Regions from separate parts of the Homo sapiens genome. Here regions 1 and 3 are each linked to region 2. A link means that fine-mapping ties the variant in region 2 to the plasma level of a protein whose gene starts in the linked region. Region 2 holds a variant in brackets. A gene starts in each other region. All regions are shown on their reverse strands.

The links. PIP is the posterior inclusion probability: the model's chance that the variant is causal. The UK Biobank Pharma Proteomics Project read protein levels with antibody pairs (Olink). The fine-mapping took linkage between variants from a reference panel, not from the people measured, so its PIPs are less certain.
Region 1: it holds the start of GAL, and the variant in region 2 is fine-mapped to the plasma level of the GAL protein (UK Biobank, PIP above 0.99).
Region 3: it holds the start of KLK8, and the variant in region 2 is fine-mapped to the plasma level of the KLK8 protein (UK Biobank, PIP 0.92).

What each region holds. Positions count from the first base shown.
Region 1 is chr11:68,678,578-68,684,767 of GRCh38, reverse strand. It overlaps GAL (galanin and GMAP prepropeptide), which reads right to left and starts at 224. Exons shown (of 6, transcript NM_015973.5): 1 at 36-224. The region is part of intron 2 of LOC107984343 (a long non-coding RNA gene); the gene reads left to right. RefSeq lists enhancers at 1-153, 830-1,505.
Region 2 is chr2:218,887,689-218,892,688 of GRCh38, reverse strand. WNT10A (Wnt family member 10A) reads right to left here. Exons shown (of 4, transcript NM_025216.3): 3 at 2,326-2,705. Among named protein-coding and RNA genes, the nearest start is that of WNT10A, 9.3 kb to the right of the region's middle. RefSeq lists enhancers at 1-45, 1-129, 646-775. The variant A/T (reference allele first, on the strand shown) is at 2,400.
Region 3 is chr19:50,996,001-51,002,266 of GRCh38, reverse strand. KLK8 (kallikrein related peptidase 8) reads left to right here and starts at 663. Exons shown (of 6, transcript NM_007196.4): 1 at 663-735; 2 at 1,092-1,169; 3 at 1,684-1,843; 4 at 2,009-2,271; 5 at 4,383-4,516; 6 at 6,053-6,259. The coding sequence starts at 1,100. The coding sequence ends at 6,208.

The DNA.
Region 1 (6,190 bases), not on the chromosome of region 2:
CCGGGGGCGCAGGGTCGGCCCGGCGCCAGTAGTACCTTGAGCTGCGGCTGCGCCCGGGTTCGGAGCGTCGGGGTCCGGGTGCGGTGGCGGGTCTGGGCGGCAGGTCCGGGCGTCGGGCCGGGTCGGGTGGGCTCTGGCGGCCTGGGGCGCTCACCGCATGGCGCGGCCGGCAGCAGGGGCAGAAGGCGCGGGCCGGGTCCCTCCACGTGTCCGCCGCCCGGTGTGGCCGCCGCCACCGCCGCCGCTGCTATATATGCGGCGCACCCGGGAGCCGCCCGGAGTCGCGTCACCGGCTCAGCGCCCGCCTCCTGCACCCTCGCCGAGCCCCGAGGGCGACGGGAGTGACCCGAGCTCGGGTCCTCTGGGCCATCATAGGCGGGTGCGGCGGAGAGCCCCCCCTCATCCCGCGGGAGAGACTCCCCCAAATCTGCAGAGAGAACCCCAAACCCTGTGGGAGAGACCCTAATCCCGAAAGACAGAGCCCAATCGCCCCGCGGGAGAGCCCCCAGACCCGTGGCCCAAGTCATCGCTGTGGCGTCAACCCCACTGCTCCCCCCGGGGTCCCAGCCCCAGAGCAAGCCTGACCCCCCACAACGTCCCACGCCTGCGGTCTCCCTGCAGCTTCTCCTCCCAGCCCCTACCGCTGCAAAAGCCAGCTGAGCTCCGCAGCACTGGAGACCCCAGAGGGTGACGGGCAGGGACGACTCCTCAGTCCGAGCCAGCCCCAGCTGGGAGGTCATGGGGTACCCGGGGAATGGCGGGCAACACTTGGCCCTGCGCCCTGGCCGGCTTGTGCTGGGGCTGGAGCGAAGGTTCAGGCCTCGGGAGCCGTCGATGGCGGGGAGGGCAGGCGTTCCCGGCTCCCTGTGCCCAGCGACCTCCCTCCTGTTTCACTAAAGGGGGGCTGTGGATCTCAGGGTCTGCTTGGCCATCCCATTGTGGGAGCTGCGGGACCGTCGAGCATCCACAGGCACCAGCTCAGAAGCTCGGCCTCTCAGTGCCTCCCCTGGCTGCCTGGTCCAGTTGTAAGAGGGAGCTTTAAGCAGGTCCAGCCATTGGGCAACTGGTTAGGTCCAGAGGGAGAGCAGCCCAGACTCCCAGAGGCCGCCAAGGGGTGGGCGGTGGGCAGAGCAGCAGCAAGAGGCTGTCCTTGTGCCCAAGGCAAAGACATCCCACAGGAACAAGGCCCTCCTTGGCTCCTCCACAAACCCTTCCTGAGCTGGGGCCAAGTCCCGAAACAACCCAGGAGAGAACCCAAGCCTAGGCTGTTCCTTCACCCCATTCCCAGGCATCAGGGGAGCACAGGATCCCAGGCATCACACTTGTACAGTGTGGCACCTCCGGGCTTCCGAAGAGCACGGGGTCATCTGCTGAAAACTCGCCTGACCTCCCCTCCCACTGGCCAGACACCACCCAAGTCCTCAACAGCAGCAGCTGGGTTAGGATCTCCCCACCCACTGGGCTCAATATCAGATGGGTTGATGTCACATCTGTGGGTTGATGTCCACAGGGCACAGGACGAATGATGATCATGACAGTGTCATCTTACCTGTCCTCTACACTTTAGTCTTGGGAACCTTTGCACAGACAGCTACAGGCTGCCCCCAGGAGAGATCCGTCTGCCTCCACGTGGCTGGGGAAGGACAACTGGGCTTTCAAGAACTCTGGCGAAGGCCAGCGGCTGCTGGAGAAGGTGCAGGGCTGCAGCCTGGTGGCTGAGTGTCTGCTGTGGTTTATGGGAGGAAGAGGAGGAGACAGGACTTGGGGAGGGGTCTTAGGAACAGACTCCTGGCACGACAGTGGTGAGGGGTGGGGTGTTCCCAAGGGCACAGTTTGACTTCTGGTCATCCCTATTTCTTGCAGCCTGGGGAGAGGAGAGTCAGGCACAGGGGACCCTAACTAGGACTCACAGGCTGATTTCGGAGCCCACAGTAAACCCTGAAGTGGTTTCCTGCCGGGAGTGGGGGCGTGGGAGACAGTGAGTCGCCATGAGAGTCTGGGCCAGCCGTGGGCAGAAGGACAGCCGAGAGGCGGAGGAGCAGAGGGCACGTTCCTGTGACTCTGCAGAGAAGTGACAATGATGTCCTCTCATGCCCCATGTCCTTGTGTCTAGATGACATCAGGGAGTGGGCAGGGGCTGGGCTCATGGGTGCCTCTTGGCTACCTGAGAAATACTGCAACCTTTGGCCCCCGGTGGTAGTGGGAGCCCTGCTACCATCCCAGAGCTCTTTCTTGCTTTCTGCTGAGAACAAATCCAGCCCAGTGCATAGCACATCTTAGTCAATTCCAGCCTTCTCCTTTCTTCCACGTTAGGCCCCCTTCCAAATCCTGCCAGAGCTTGACTACACTTATTTTCTCTATTTACTTTGTCACAGAGGCTCTTAGTCTGTTTAAAGGAGCACAAACTCTAAACCTAAATCCTTGAGATGGATTCGAAAAGAGACTCAAAGTCCATCCCTTAGTCATGGGCTGGAATTTGAGGTACATTAAACTTTCAGCTGTCTTCATTTGGGCCTATGTACTCTTTTTGTTTCCTTTTTTGCTTTCAAAGAAACTTCAGACTGGGCGCAGTGGCTCACGCTTGTAATCCCAGCATTTTGGGAGGCTGAGGTGAGTAGATAGATCACTTGAGCCCTGGAGTCCAAGACCAGCTGGGGCAACATAGCAAGGCCTCATCTCTACTAAAAATAAATAAATAAATATTTTTTAAAAATCAGCCAAGCATGATGGCACGTGCCTGTAGTCCCAGCTACTCAGCTCAGGAGGCTGAGGTGGGAGGATCACCTGAGCCCAGGAGGTTGAGGCTACAGTGAGCCACGATCAAGCCTGCACTCCAGCATAGGCAACAGAGCAAGTCTCTGTCAAGAAAGAAAGAAGGAGGGAGGGAGGGAGAGAGAGAGAGAGAGAGAGAGAAGGGAAGAAGAAGAAAGAAGAAGAAGAAGGAGGAGGACGAGGAGGAGAAGGAGAAGAAGAAAAGAGAAGGAAGGAAAGTGAGGAAAGAGAAAGGAAAAAAAGAAAAATAAATTTCAGGCCGGGTGCGGTGGCTCATGCCTGTAATCCCAGCACTTTGGGAGGCCAAGGCGGGTGGATCACAAGGTCAGGAGATCGAGACCATCCTGGCTAACATGGTGAAACCCCGTCTCTACCAAAAATACAAAAAATTAGCCGGGAGTGGTGGCAGGCGCCTGTGGTCCCAGCTATTTGGGAGGCTGAGGCAGGAGAATGGCGTGAACCCAGGAGGCGGAGCTTGCAGTGAGCCTAGATCGTGCCACTGCACTCCAGCCTGGGTGACAGAGCGAGACTCCGTCTCGAAAAACAAAAAACAAAAAACAAACGAAAAAGAAATTTCAGGGTAGGTTATCTGGTCAGAGCCTCCTTATTAAAAAGACATTAAGCAACTGGAAACAAATCTTCACATGTATTTTGAATTCATTTAAGAAAGCTCCATTGAATAATTAGACACATGTATTCAAAATAAACATGCCCATGCCTGATTCCTCCAGGTCCCTAAGTTCTTTTTCCACGTGGGATGACACCCACCGTCTTGCTTCCCGCTTAGTCTGGGTGAGTGGGTCTCGGTATAAACCCTGGCTGGGACCCTGGCCCGGAAGTGCGGTGACCATGGGAAGGCTACAGACAAGCAAGGCAGTGGCCTGAAGGCGTGCTGGGGTTTCCTGAGGTCGGCAGATTCCTTCAGACAAATGAGGCCAGCACACCTGGGATGACAGACACCTGCCTCCCGGCACAGACTGTGCTGGAACCACAGCCAGTGTGCTAATGGCTCTTTGCTCAGTAATGACCCAATGGCAGTCATTGTCAACCTGTCATCTTGAAGACAGCCCAGTGTGCAGCAGACAAAGTGGGTCACCATTAGAGTAATCGAAATCAAGCAGAAAGCCTGATGTCCCCCGCTGCCTTCGAGCCAGCCCATCTTCCTTAGAAGCGCTGTCCACCACCAGGAAAAACCACCCTGAAGCTGAGAACTCAAGCAAGGGTCAAGGGTCACCTGGGCCATGCCCACTGCACGGGAGCTCAACCGTCCATTGCCTGGCAGTGGAGCTGCAGTGGTGAAATCAGCAGCAGGGTCCCTGCCCTTGCGGAGTTAGACCCTCACGGAGACCCATTACAGTTGGCCCCTCTGTATCTGTGAGTTCCCTGGCTGTGGGTTCAACCCACTATGGACTGGGTCCTTGTAGGTAGGCCTAGGATGGGTTTCTCTGTACGAATACGTACAGACTTTTTTCCTTGTCATTATTTCCTAAACAATACGGTATAACAACTATTCATGTAGCATTTACATTATACTCAGTATTATAAGTAATCTAGAGATGATTTAAAGCATGTGGGAGGGCCATCGCGGTGGCTTATGCCTGTAATCACAACACTTTGGGAGGCCGAGGCGGGCAGATCACTTGAGGTCAGGAGTTCGAGACCAGCCTGGCCAACATGCCAAAACCCTCTCTCTACTACATATACAAAAACTCAGCCAGATGTGGTGGCGGACATCTGTAATCCCAGCTACTCGGGACGCTGAGGCAGGAGAATCACTTGTACAACTGAACCCGGGAGGCAGAGGTTGCAGTGAGCCGAAACGGCGCCACTGCACTCCAGCATCTGGGTGACAGAGTGAGACTTCATCTCAAAAATAAAAAAGTTAAATTAAAAATAAAGCATATGGGAAGATGTGCGTAGGTTATATGCAAATACTATGCCATTTTATATAAGGGACTTGAGCATCCACGGATTTCGGTATTTGCGTGGCCAGGGGTTTCCTGGAACCAACCCACTGTGGACATGGAGGGCCAACTGTATGCAACAAATGGTTATTGTACAAATAACCACCCCATTGTCGTGGGAAGGAGATGCATGGATTAGGGGAGCTGAACCTGACAGGTGAGCAGGACTGACTGGGTACAGAATGAGGTCCAGCACACTCCAGGTGGAGGGGGTTACATGGGTACGCCCCCTTTTTGGTCCTTTTCCATTCCTTCTTCCTGCTGCCTGGAGTGTGGACGTGAAGGCTGGAGGTGGGCAACGAATTTGGACCATGAGGTGATGGCTTCAGGTGACACATCAAGGCCGAGGGAGCCTGGGTCCCAGTGACCCTGAGCCTGGTCCCTGGGCTGCACACTTCCAGGCTTGTTTCACAACAGAGGAGAAGAAGCATCTCTCTTATTTAAGCCAATGGCCCATAGAGGTTTTCCATCACGTGCGGTAGGAATTGTTCCAATCAGTTTCACAGTGGTCAACAAATGTTTGATGAATGAATGAATGAATGAATAAAAACACGTGAGAGGGTACACCACCTCCACCGCTGCTGAGAAGCTCATGTCTGCAAGACGGGCTCATCAGAGGGAGAGGTTTGGACGATAACGTGACGAACGATACCACCTATCAGTCCCACGACCATCTCGTTACTACTCAAGAAATGAGGAAATGGCTCGATGACCTAAAATTGGCATTTCTTTGACCCTGCAAATGTCTGTGTCCTTGATTCCCCCATTCCCTGATTTCCACGCCACCCAGCCCCACTCCAGTAACACAGCAGTCATGAAAAAAGACCCTAGAGTCGCTCCCCTAAAAAAATGAGTAGCTGGCAAAGGATCTGGCTAAGGTGAAAGTTGTATCAATGGATAGAATTATACCATTCTATGAATGAGTTTTTAATATATGTATTCGATTATTCGACAGAACCTTGTTAAATGGGTTCATTATACAGGGTTGTTTCATTCACAGAAACAATTGGGTGCTTTTACTAAGGGGTTAAGGTAGTAGAAATTGGAGTTTCGAGTGCAAGCTGAGAAGGGAGAAGAGGAGGAAGAGCAAGTTTTGGAGGTTTGAGGACATTGGGTAACAGAATGCCATCTTTAAAGCAGCCTTCTGGAAGATTCTTTCTGCATGCATCTTGCTGGCCAGAGTCATGCCCGGCCACAACAGAGGCTTGGAAACAGGTTGGAAACAGGGTCTTTTATTATGGATGATGTTGAGCTCACTTGAGTTCTGGAGCTGAAGGAGGAGGGGGACATGGAATGTTGGTGTGGGCCAGTACAGGCTCTGCCACAGGCAGGGCCCTAAGTCCATGTGTTTTCGTAGTTGTAAATTTTTTGTGAAATGTGAAAGCAAGCCATAATCACAGCCAGTTAAGACCTGTCTCTCGACACATCACTTCCTCAGTTTCCCCTCAGACAAT
Region 2 (5,000 bases):
ACTCCCATTATACAGAGGCAAACGCTGAGGCCGGGAGCGAGGGTCCCACAACCAGGCAGTCAGAAGAACTTCTGTACCTGCTCTTCTGCCTCTGCCTCTGCCTCTCCCACCCACCTCCCACCAGGCCAGGCCCCGGGGGAATTCCCACCTGCCGGCTCCCCTCCTCTCCTGCCCGCCTTTCCAGCAGCTGCAGGGGGCCCTTGGGGCTGGAGGCTCTTGCTTCCTGAAGGGGGATCCCAAATAGGCAGGGAAATTCCCTCTCCTGCCACCCCTGGGGTAGGGGCCAGGAGCAGGAGGGTGCTGGCCCCGCTGTATCTCGCTCCAGGCCGTGTGTGTGTGTGTGTGTGTGTGTGTGTGTGTGTGTGTGTGTGTGTGTGTGTGTGTGGTGGGGTGGGTGGAGGGGTGTTCGGTGAGTTTCAGAAAGCCTTGGTCCCCCTCTCAGTCCTTCCCTCTCCAGCTCCCCCTACATCTCTTTGTAGAGAGCCAAAGGAGGGGGACAAGTGCTGGGGAAACTGTCCCCGATTATGCTGCCTGGGGCTCATTCTGCACTATGCTGAGACCCATGGTTCGTCCTAGGAAAAGTCAGCGCCACCAGGGGCCAAAGCTCTACCTAATACAGAATGGAACCGGAGAGAGCCAGGCTCTCCAGCTCAGTGAAAGTGGAGAAGGTCTCAGGCCTCCAAGGGAGGTGGTTATGGGAACGCAACCCAGCCGCCCCCAACCCAGCTCACAACCTGCTCTAGAGTCTCCTTACTAAGAACCCTTTGACATTTTCACCAGAAACCCCGTAAGAAGTTGGCCACATCCCCTCCTTTCCCTCAGTCCACTCCGAAAACACACCCTGAGACAGGGACGGCAATGATCCAGGGCCCTTAAACTTGGGCAGTAGGGCCATAAGAGAGGGCGCCTTCCCCTCGAGGTCTGAAAGGGCTCCACAGCGTGCATGCGCAGCCTGTGCTGTCAGCACCACGTGGGAACCAGACCAATGCCTCCCCAGGCCAACAGCTCCAGAACATCTGCTTCCCACGGGCAGCAGCCATTAATTAACCAGTTTAACGAGGAGGAGGAGGAGGAGGCACCGTTGGTATGGGCTGGGATGGCGGTGAGGCTTGGGAAAAGAGCTGTACAGGGCAGGCTGGGTGGGAGCTGGACATGACCCAAGGGTAAGTGTGCCTCAGTTTACCCCGCCTCTAAGTCAAGATGGGAATTGCTGAATCAGCTTTGTGCAGGAAGATGACCCATCGTGGGCTAAGAGGCCAAGAGAAAGAAGAGTGAGATGGAGAAGGTGCCAGCCAGAGTGAGAGGAAGCCAGGTAAAAGGCCTCAACAGGCTGAGCAGAGTCAAAAGAAGGGATGATGGAGATGGAATGCTCAGGAAAGGACAGTGCTGAGCTACCATGAGAGCCAACAGGGCATCAGAATGTGGACTCAACGCTGTAGAACAAAAGAGAACAGGCTCAAAGGTCAACTGCCTGGGGATGAACCCTGCCTGGACCACCTTCTCACTAGTTGCATCATTTTGGGCAAGCTTCTTGGTCAATCCATGCCTCAGTTTCCATATCTCAACATAAGGTTAATAACAGTGCCCACTTCATAGGTAGTTGTAAGGATTAAATAGGTTAATATGTAGGAAAGTGCTCAAGACAGTGCCTAACACATAGTAAGCACTCAATAAATGCAGGCTATTACCACTATCCTTTCTTCTGCTGCTTTTTTATGTATGTGTGTATGTATTTAATTTATTTTTAATGAATGACCCTTGAGGTAGTAGGAGCATTTGAGGACAGAGGATAAAGGAGAAAGGCACCATAACACAGTTCCCCAGTGGCCCCTAGGAACTTCACTTACACCCCTTACTTTGCAGGAATCCCTCATTCTAGACTGCACAGAAAGGCTGGGAGAGATCACTGGATCATGGAACATTAGCATTGGGGGGAACCTTAGGGATGATCTAGTTCAACCTTGTCACTCTATAGGGGAGGAGTCAGATGGGAGCTCCAGGCCTAGACTCCTGAAGTCCTGACTGCACCCCTGTCCTTTCTCCTGGGTGATCACCCGAGGAAGTAGGAGAAGCAGGTTGCTCAGCAGGTGGTATGCTGATCCAGGGCAACAGGGCTTGTTTCTGCCCTGTATCCCCAGGCCTAGTCCAGTGCCTGGTGCACAGTGCATACTCAGTGCATGTTTGTTGAATTAGACAGGGTCAACGAGAAGATTGCCAAGGTGTGACATGTGGGAGCAACGTGGTCCTCAGAAGAGAGGTAGGCCAGGGCAAGGGGTAGGCCCTAGGCAAAGAGATTTGAAGCAGACCCAGGGGTGGGGCTCTCACCTGCCTCCCAACTCGGTTGTTGTGAAGCCTCATTCTCGCGTGGATGTCTCTGTGAGGCTCCCGGGAGTCCAGAA[A/T]GTCCTTAGAAAAGCGCTCCCCGAAGCCCATGTCGGGGCTGCAGCCGCCCCACTCCCAGGAGTCCTGCAGGCCTGGGCTGGCTGTGGGCAGGGCTGGGTGTTCCGGGACCCCATGGCTCAGGCCCTTACCACGCTGCAGTGCATCCAGTTGTAAGCGGTGCAGCTTCCTACGGAAGGCCTCCTCGTCCCCTCGCCGGGACGCATCACAGCCACAGGCCTTCAGTTTGCCCAGGGCACACGCATTGGACACGGCGTGCACCACGCCAGCTGCTGCGATGGCGTAGGCAAAAGCGCTCTCTCGGAAACCTGTGGTTAAAGACCCAGAACACATGGACTCTGGAGGGGCCTTGACACCCCATTCTCCAGCCCACCTTTCTCATCATTCCAAGGAGAAACTGAAGCCCAGTATGCAGGAGAGTCTGGCACAAGGAAACAGAGTCAAAGAAGGGCAGAAATCACGCCAGAAGCCAGTTCTTCTGCAAACAGAACCTGGTGGGGTGGGAGGGAGGCTTCCCAATAGCCCTCTGCTTTTTGTACGCCCTTCTCCTGTTCTTTAACATCACCTTTAGCAAACTCAGAATTTGTGTGTCTACATCTCTACTGTAGAGCAGAAAGTATCAGGTAAACACATTCTTTTTACAATCAGGGACTTAATCTATTACCTCTCACAGTGGTATCTGCAATTTTAAAATAAGCCCACAGAATGAGGGCAACATTTAAGCTAAAGAATTCATTGCCAGTGATGTTGCTGGTGGGAATGTAAACTAGTACAACCACTATGGAAAACAGTGTGGAGATTCCTCAAAGAACTAAAAGTAGAACTACCATTTGATCCAGTAATCCCACTACTGGGTATCTACCCAGAGGAAAAGAAGTCATTATACGAAAAAGATACTTGCACACGCATGTTTACAGCAGTACAATTTGTAATTGCAAAAATATGGTACCAGCCCAAATGCCCATCAACCAACAAGTGGATAAAGAAATTGCAGTATAAATATGCCATGGAATACTCCTCAGCCATAAAAAGGAACAAAATAATGGCATTCACAGCAACCTGGATGGAATTTGAGACTATTATTCTAAGTGAAGTAACTCAGGAATGGAAAACCAAACATCGTATGTTCTCACTTATAAGTGGAAGCTAAGCCATGAGGATGCAAAGGCATAAGAATGACACAATGGACTTTGGGGACTTGGGGAAAGGTTGGGTGTGAGGTGACAGATCAAAGACTACACATTGGGTGCAGTGTACACTGCTTGGGTGATGGGTGCACCAAAATCTCAGAAATCACCACGAAAGAACTTATTCATGTAACCAAACACCATCTGTTCCCCAGAAACCTATTGAAATAAATAAATAAATAAATAAAATGATATTTCATAAAATAAAATGTACACAATTTTGGAAAAAAAGAGAATAAATTGTCAATGATGAAATTCCAGGCCTTAGGAGATGTCAGTGGGCAGCAGAGTAAGTAAGAGGAGACGGTCAGCTCCTAATGCTCCCTGCCCCAAGATAGCCTGCTGGGTGCGTGCCCATCTTAGGCACAGCATAGGATCCTCCCTAATGACCAGACTCCAGAGGCAAAGAAATGGGTCACCAGAGCTTCCCCTTGCTTGTCCACAGGACATCCCTGAAAGCCACTCAGAAATGGGCGCTACCCAGCCACCTTGCCTGTGACCCACCCAGGTCAGCTGCAGAGGCTGTTGGAGGTACGCTAGAGGGAAGCCCAGGGTCCTGCATGGGGTCTGGCATGTAGTAGTGTTGAACATGGAGAAGGAAGGGCAAGCTGAGGCAGATACCTTCCACCAGATGTTCAGGAGGCACAGATTTTCCCTGACCAAGCCACTCTTGGGGGCCGCGGCTAGGCCGGCCTGGCCACTGGCTTGTCCACACTGCCTTCCTTCTTGGTGCTCCAACCTGAGCCATTCTCTGGGAACACCTGGACCTGTGGCAGGGGGAGGCCTACTTGCAAAGGAGGGTCCCATTCTCAGACATGCAAGCTATCTTTTGCTTATTCTGCATCTGAGAATGGACCAGCTAGGAACAAGTTCTGGTACAAGTCTCCAACCAGCCTCCGCACACCAGAGAGGGGGCAGGCAGCAAGAGAAGCCAGAGGCCTGGGCCAATCCCACCTTAATCCTCACCCACTGCATCACAGAGCCCTGTCCTCCCCTTCCTGCCAAAACAAACAAAAAAACCAAAACCAAAAACAACCAACAAACAAAAAATAACAGAAAGAAACAGAACAAGCTGTTTAGTAGTTAAGAACTAATTCCTGAAACCAGTTTACTTCAAATCTTGGCTCTTCCACTTACTAGCTGCTAATAGCTATGTGACCTTGGCCAAGTGACTTAACCTCCCTGTGCCTCAGTTTCCTTACCTATAAAATAGAGCTATTATCTGCCTCATTGTTGTTCCAAGAATTAAATGAACTGGTAAATTTAAAGTGCTTAGAATAGTGCCTTACTAATCGAGGAAGTATTACTCAAACATTAGCTATTATTGAGAAGTTCTTTCTGCTATCTGACCTCACTCACTCCTGCTGCATTTTTTGGGCCATTGTTTTTTGTTTCACCCTGATCAGGGACAAAGCC
Region 3 (6,266 bases), not on the chromosome of region 2:
CTCTCAGGGGACAGCGGGCGGGGCCTGATCCACCCTCTGGTTTCTGACCCTAGAAGACCTGCCTTTCTTCGGTTCCCGGTTACTGGCAGCAGCCCCCTCCTCCCACAAAAGATCAGGTTCCAAGCTTCTCCTTTTAAAAGTACTTAGAATTCAGCCCCCAGCTCTCTCCTCCCTCACACCCAGGAATCCAGGCCCCTAGCCCCTCCTCCCTCAGACCCAGGAGTCCTGGCCCCTAGCAGCCCCCTCCTCCCTCAGACCCAGGAGTCTGGGCCCCCAGCCCCTCCTCGGTCAGACCTAAATCCCAGGTCCCAGTCCCTCCTCCCTTAGATTTAGGAGTCCAGGCCCCCAGCCTCTCCTCCCTCAGACCCAGGAATCCAGGCCCCCAGCCTCCTCCCCTCTCAGAACTAAAATCTTGGCCCCCAGCCCTTTATGTTTCAGATCGTAGAGTCTCAGCACCGAGTCCCTCCTCTCCCTAGCCTCAGGAGTCTGAGATTCCAGCCCCTCCTCCCTCAAGATTTCACGTTCAATCCCCTCCGCCCCTTCTCACTCACACCCAGTGTTCCAGTTCCCAGAAGCTCCCCAGGCTCTAGTGCAGGAGGAGAAGGAGGAGGAGCAGGAGGTGGAGATTCCCAGTTAAAAGGCTCCAGAATCGTGTACCAGGCAGAGAACTGAAGTACTGGGGCCTCCTCCACTGGGTCCGAATCAGTAGGTGACCCCGCCCCTGGATTCTGGAAGGTGAGGTGCAGAGGTACTCAGATACAGACATCAGGCCCCGGACCCTCCTTCTCCAGATTCCAGGACCCCAGCCTCAGATGCCCTTCTCTGTCGAGATCCAGCAGTCTGGACCCCGGCTTCCTCCTCTCCCTAATTTAGGAGTCCCAGCTCCCAGCTCCCTGTCCCCTCAGACCCAGACATCGAGGACTCCCCCCTCCCTTGGAATGTAGGAATCCAGTCCCCCAGCCTCCTCCTTCCTCCAGAGAAGCCCAGAACAGCCCCAGATACTCTCGGCTGCCTCCCCAGTGCCCAAATCCAGAACTGGGAGCTCAGGCTCCTCCTTCCTGTTTACCGGCCCCGCCCTCTCCATTTCCCAGACCTCACCATGGGACGCCCCCGACCTCGTGCGGCCAAGACGTGGATGTTCCTGCTCTTGCTGGGGGGAGCCTGGGCAGGTGAGGAGGGTTGCGGAGGCCTCCGGAGGGGAGGGATCTGAAGGCAGCAGTGGCGCTGGGGAGTCTGTGGGAATGCCGCGGGGGTTATGTGGGTGCGTGTGCACGGATGTGAAGAGTGCGATACGGTGCAGGAGCCTCTGTGGGCTTTCCTCAGGGTGGACAGAGGCAAGAAACAGGTAGCAGCAGGTAGGAGTAGGTTCCGTGATGCTGTAAATTGTCTGAATAGCTACAGCCTTTGGGGGCTGCTTGCTTGGGGGCATAGATTCACCTGGGAGTACTCGGGGCCTGTAGACTCATGTGGAAGCATGTGGGGGCATTCTTGGGTGTGTGACTCTTGTATGATGACACATGGACTGAAATGAGTGTCCCCGTGTGGCAGCGTGTGGAAGCCTGGACCTCCTCACTAAGTTGTATGCGGAGAACTTGCCGTGTGTCCATTTGAACCCACAGTGGCCTTCCCAGCCCTCGCACTGCCCCAGAGGGTGGCGATCCAACCCTCTCCCTCCTGCTGCAGGACACTCCAGGGCACAGGAGGACAAGGTGCTGGGGGGTCATGAGTGCCAACCCCATTCGCAGCCTTGGCAGGCGGCCTTGTTCCAGGGCCAGCAACTACTCTGTGGCGGTGTCCTTGTAGGTGGCAACTGGGTCCTTACAGCTGCCCACTGTAAAAAACCGTGAGTGGATGATGGGGGCAGAGGTCAGCTGGGGCTTAAGGAAAGAGGGGGCTGGGGTTTCGACTCAGGAAGGAGAGAGCTGAGGACTGGACTCCTGGGTCTGAAGGAGGAGGGGGCTGGGGGCAATACCCCTGCCTGGGTCCCAAACTATCCCCACCATTACAGGAAATACACAGTACGCCTGGGAGACCACAGCCTACAGAATAAAGATGGCCCAGAGCAAGAAATACCTGTGGTTCAGTCCATCCCACACCCCTGCTACAACAGCAGCGATGTGGAGGACCACAACCATGATCTGATGCTTCTTCAACTGCGTGACCAGGCATCCCTGGGGTCCAAAGTGAAGCCCATCAGCCTGGCAGATCATTGCACCCAGCCTGGCCAGAAGTGCACCGTCTCAGGCTGGGGCACTGTCACCAGTCCCCGAGGTAGTGGGCTTGTCCACTAATGGGAGGGAGAGGAGGAGCTGGTTGGCCCAGTGGAACCCAAGCTATTGGCAAAGCTTGGTCCCCCAGAGGGAGACAAAGAAGGGAAAGTGATCATGATGTTGAGATTCACAAGCAGGAGTCATATGAGAAGCCTCGAAGATCTGACTACTAACAAGAGTGGTGAGAGAAAGAACCAACTAGCAGATTGTTAAGCAGGGCCAGAAAAGCCCATCCTGTATGGCGGAGAGCACTACCCTATGGGACCTTTGGTTGTATAGGATTTTATATAATCTTAACACACTTGGGATATTTGGACTTCTCAGAGGCCCAGGAAAACAGGCTCCTAAGCACCTTCTCCCCCACCTCCCTCCTTTTTTTTTTTTTTTTTTTTTTTTTTTTTTTTTTTTTTTTTGCAGGGGGACACAGTTTCACTCAATCGCCCAGGCTGGAGTGCAGTGGCACAATCTCAGCTCACTACAATCTCTGCCTCCTGGGTTTAAGCGATTCTCGAACCTCAGCCTCCCGAGTAGCTGGGATTACAGGCACCCGCCACCACGCGAGCTAATTTTTGTATTTGTTGTAGAGACAGGGTTTCGCCATGTTGACCAGGCTGGTCTCGAACTCCTGACCTCAAGTGATCTGCCCGCCTCGGCCTACCAAAGTGCTGGGATTACAAGCATGAGCCACCGCCCCTGGCCTTTTTCTCCTTCTTGAACCCAGGAAACCTGGGCCCTGGTCACCTCTTCCCTCAGACCCGGGAGTCTAGGCCCTTCTTCTCCCAGGACCCAGCAGTCCTAGCTCCCTCTTGACTCTGGACCCCAAAATCTGGACCTCCAATGAAGCTGTCCCTTTGGGACTCCAGAATCCAGAGAGCCCCTCGCCTTCCTTCACAGTGAAAACATTGGGACTCACCTAAGAGAGTCAAGGAGCTTCTCCAGGAAGTGGCAAAGTCAGCATTCAGGTCCCTGCCTGCCTCACTCCTGCTCTGAATGCTTTGGATGAGACAGTTTGCGGCTGTGGAAACACACGTGCTCGCAAATCAAGTAGATCAGTTCAAACTATGGCTCTGCCCTTTCTCCCTGGGCAAATTCCTTTCCATCTCTGAGCCTCACTTTCCTTATCTGCAAAATGGGAATCATTAACCAATAGATTTTTTAGCTACGTGAGGGTTCAGGTTACATCAGTTTTCTTCATTGTGTTCTCCTAGTGCTCAGAATGGTGCCTGCTACATGGTAGATGCTCAATAAATATTTGTTGAATGGATGACCTGATGAATAAATAATGAAATGAATGAATGCATCTCTCCTTCAAAGCGCTGTTGTGAGGATTAAATGAGATTATGAGCATATTGCTTTTGGCACGTAGAGATGCCAGATGGAAGTTTTTCCCCCTCAAAGAGGCTTTGGAGAAGTCTATTCCTCAAAAGAGGTTAATAAAAAAGATCAATTCCACCTTCAATCATTAATTCAACTCTTATTTACTGAGCACCTAGTATGCCTGAGGTGCTGTTGCAGGCGCTGGATATACAGCCATGAGCAAACTGTACAAAGTCCTTGTCGTTATGGAGTTGCAAGCTAGGTGGGAGAAATAGACAATAAACAAATACACATAAAATAAAACATTAGGCAAAGTGCTGTAAGGAAATATTGTGGAGCGTAAAAGGATAGGGAGTAATGGAGGGATGGTATTTTTTAATTCGAGTGGTCAGGGAAGGCTTCCAGGAGGAGGTGACACTTGGAAGGAGCAGGATTTAGCACAGATTGAGGACCCGGTTGTCTGAGGGCAGGAAGACTGGAAAGAGAGGGTCAGAGGTATCATAAAGGGGCACCTCCAAGTAACCCCCAGCCCCTTGATTTGAAAATGGCTCAGGGTAAGAAAAAACACGTGAGATCCAAGGGCCCCTCTCTAGATGGAGAAAGCCCAATAGCAACAAGTACAGCTTCGTTTAATGTGGTGAGAAGTGATGTCCCCTGTGCACAGTGTCAGAAAATTCCCCCATGCAGCTGGAAAACTCCCCCATTACATCCTGGAAAGAAAGGGGGTTAGATCCAGACAGGGATGGAGGCAAAGGGCTGCTCTCTCAGGGAACCTTACAACCTCTTCCCCCTCAGAGAATTTTCCTGACACTCTCAACTGTGCAGAAGTAAAAATCTTTCCCCAGAAGAAGTGTGAGGATGCTTACCCGGGGCAGATCACAGATGGCATGGTCTGTGCAGGCAGCAGCAAAGGGGCTGACACGTGCCAGGTGAGCAATTTCTGAAATCCTTCTCCTCACACATCCCTCATTGCCCTCTCGAGGTTCAAGGCTTGGATGGGGGTGGGGGTGGTAAGGGAGTGACCCCAAAGACTTGGCACCCGGAGTGTTCACCCCTATCTCTACGGATTGGGAGCCAGGTTCAGAGAAGCCAAACTCTCTCTCTGAAAGTCACACTGCATAGGGATTAGGAGCATTGAATTGCTGCTGCTGTTTTCTTTCGAACGCTTAACTACAGGATGGGATGCAGAGTTGGGGGCTATAGAGGGTGGGGTAGATGTCCAGCAAGGAGAGAGTCTGAGGCTAGAGTTTAGACGAGTTGCCTGCTCTCTGGTTCCCAGCATTACATCGTGGAATTTGTGCCGACTTTACCACCGGCCCGGTGGTCAGCCACTTTTCTTTGAGACCGGGCTAGAATCCCAAGGCTGGTTCCCTTCTCCTGTGATTGGTTCCTTGGGAGACAATGGTGTCTTCCCAGTTGGCTGGAGTAAATGGTGCCATTGACTTCAGTGCTTCCTCAATGAGCTCCAATCCCTTTCTCTTGGGATTTGTCATAGATATAACTCTCTCTTCTAACTGCAACTTCGTTGTTCCTAGCACTTTCCCCTGGCTTTGTCCACTTCCTGGAAGCCCCACCACCTTTGCCAATGACTGGTCCCTAAATACAATGCTTTCTTCCCCATTGGCCAAAAATGGAGTCGTTTCCATCAGCGATACTGCCATGAAAGCCAGTCTCTGGATTGTTCTGTAGAGATAGTGGTCTCTTCCACAAATATTTCAGCCATGGTCTCTTGGGGATATGGTGTGTGTGTGTGTGTGTGTGTGTGTGTGTGTGTGTGTGTGTGTGTCCATAAGAATCTTGATCCTTTCTCCTATGTTTGGCAACTGCAATCAATGATGCCTTCACTATTGGCCAGGAACAGAGGAAACTTCAGCTCAGTCCTCTCCAAGTAATCCCTACTGTCTTCTCCCTGGATTGGACCCTCGAGAACTCTTTTTTTTTTTTTTTTGAGACAGGGTCTCGCTCTGTCCCCCAAGCTGGAATGCAGTGGCACAATCTTGGCTCACTGCAGCCTCTGCCTCCCAGTTCAAGCAATTCTCCCACCTCAGCCTCCCGAGTAGCTGTGATTACAGGTGTGCACCACCACACCCAGCTAGTTTTTGTATTTTTAGTAGAGACAGGGATTCACCATGTTGGCCAGGCTGGTCTGGAACGCCTGACTTCAAGTGATCTACCGCCTCGGCCTCCCAAAGTGCCGGGATTGCAGGTGTGAGCCACCAAGCCTGTCTGGGATTTCATTCTTTCCCCTCTTCTGTCAGTGTTTTGACCACTACCCTTAGACACCATGTCTGTCTGTACATGGAAGCCCCAAGCCCTGTCCTGACTGGTCTCAGGGGACAATGCTTTTACCCCCATTGGCTACAGGGGACCAATCATGCCAAAGAACTGGTAAAACGCTGGGACAGCAGGAAAAGGGACGTTGTGGACATCTCAGATGCAAGGCTGTTCTCATTCTCCCTGTCTAGGGCGATTCTGGAGGCCCCCTGGTGTGTGATGGTGCACTCCAGGGCATCACATCCTGGGGCTCAGACCCCTGTGGGAGGTCCGACAAACCTGGCGTCTATACCAACATCTGCCGCTACCTGGACTGGATCAAGAAGATCATAGGCAGCAAGGGCTGATTCTAGGATAAGCACTAGATCTCCCTTAATAAACTCACAACTCTCTGGTTCCTTGCCT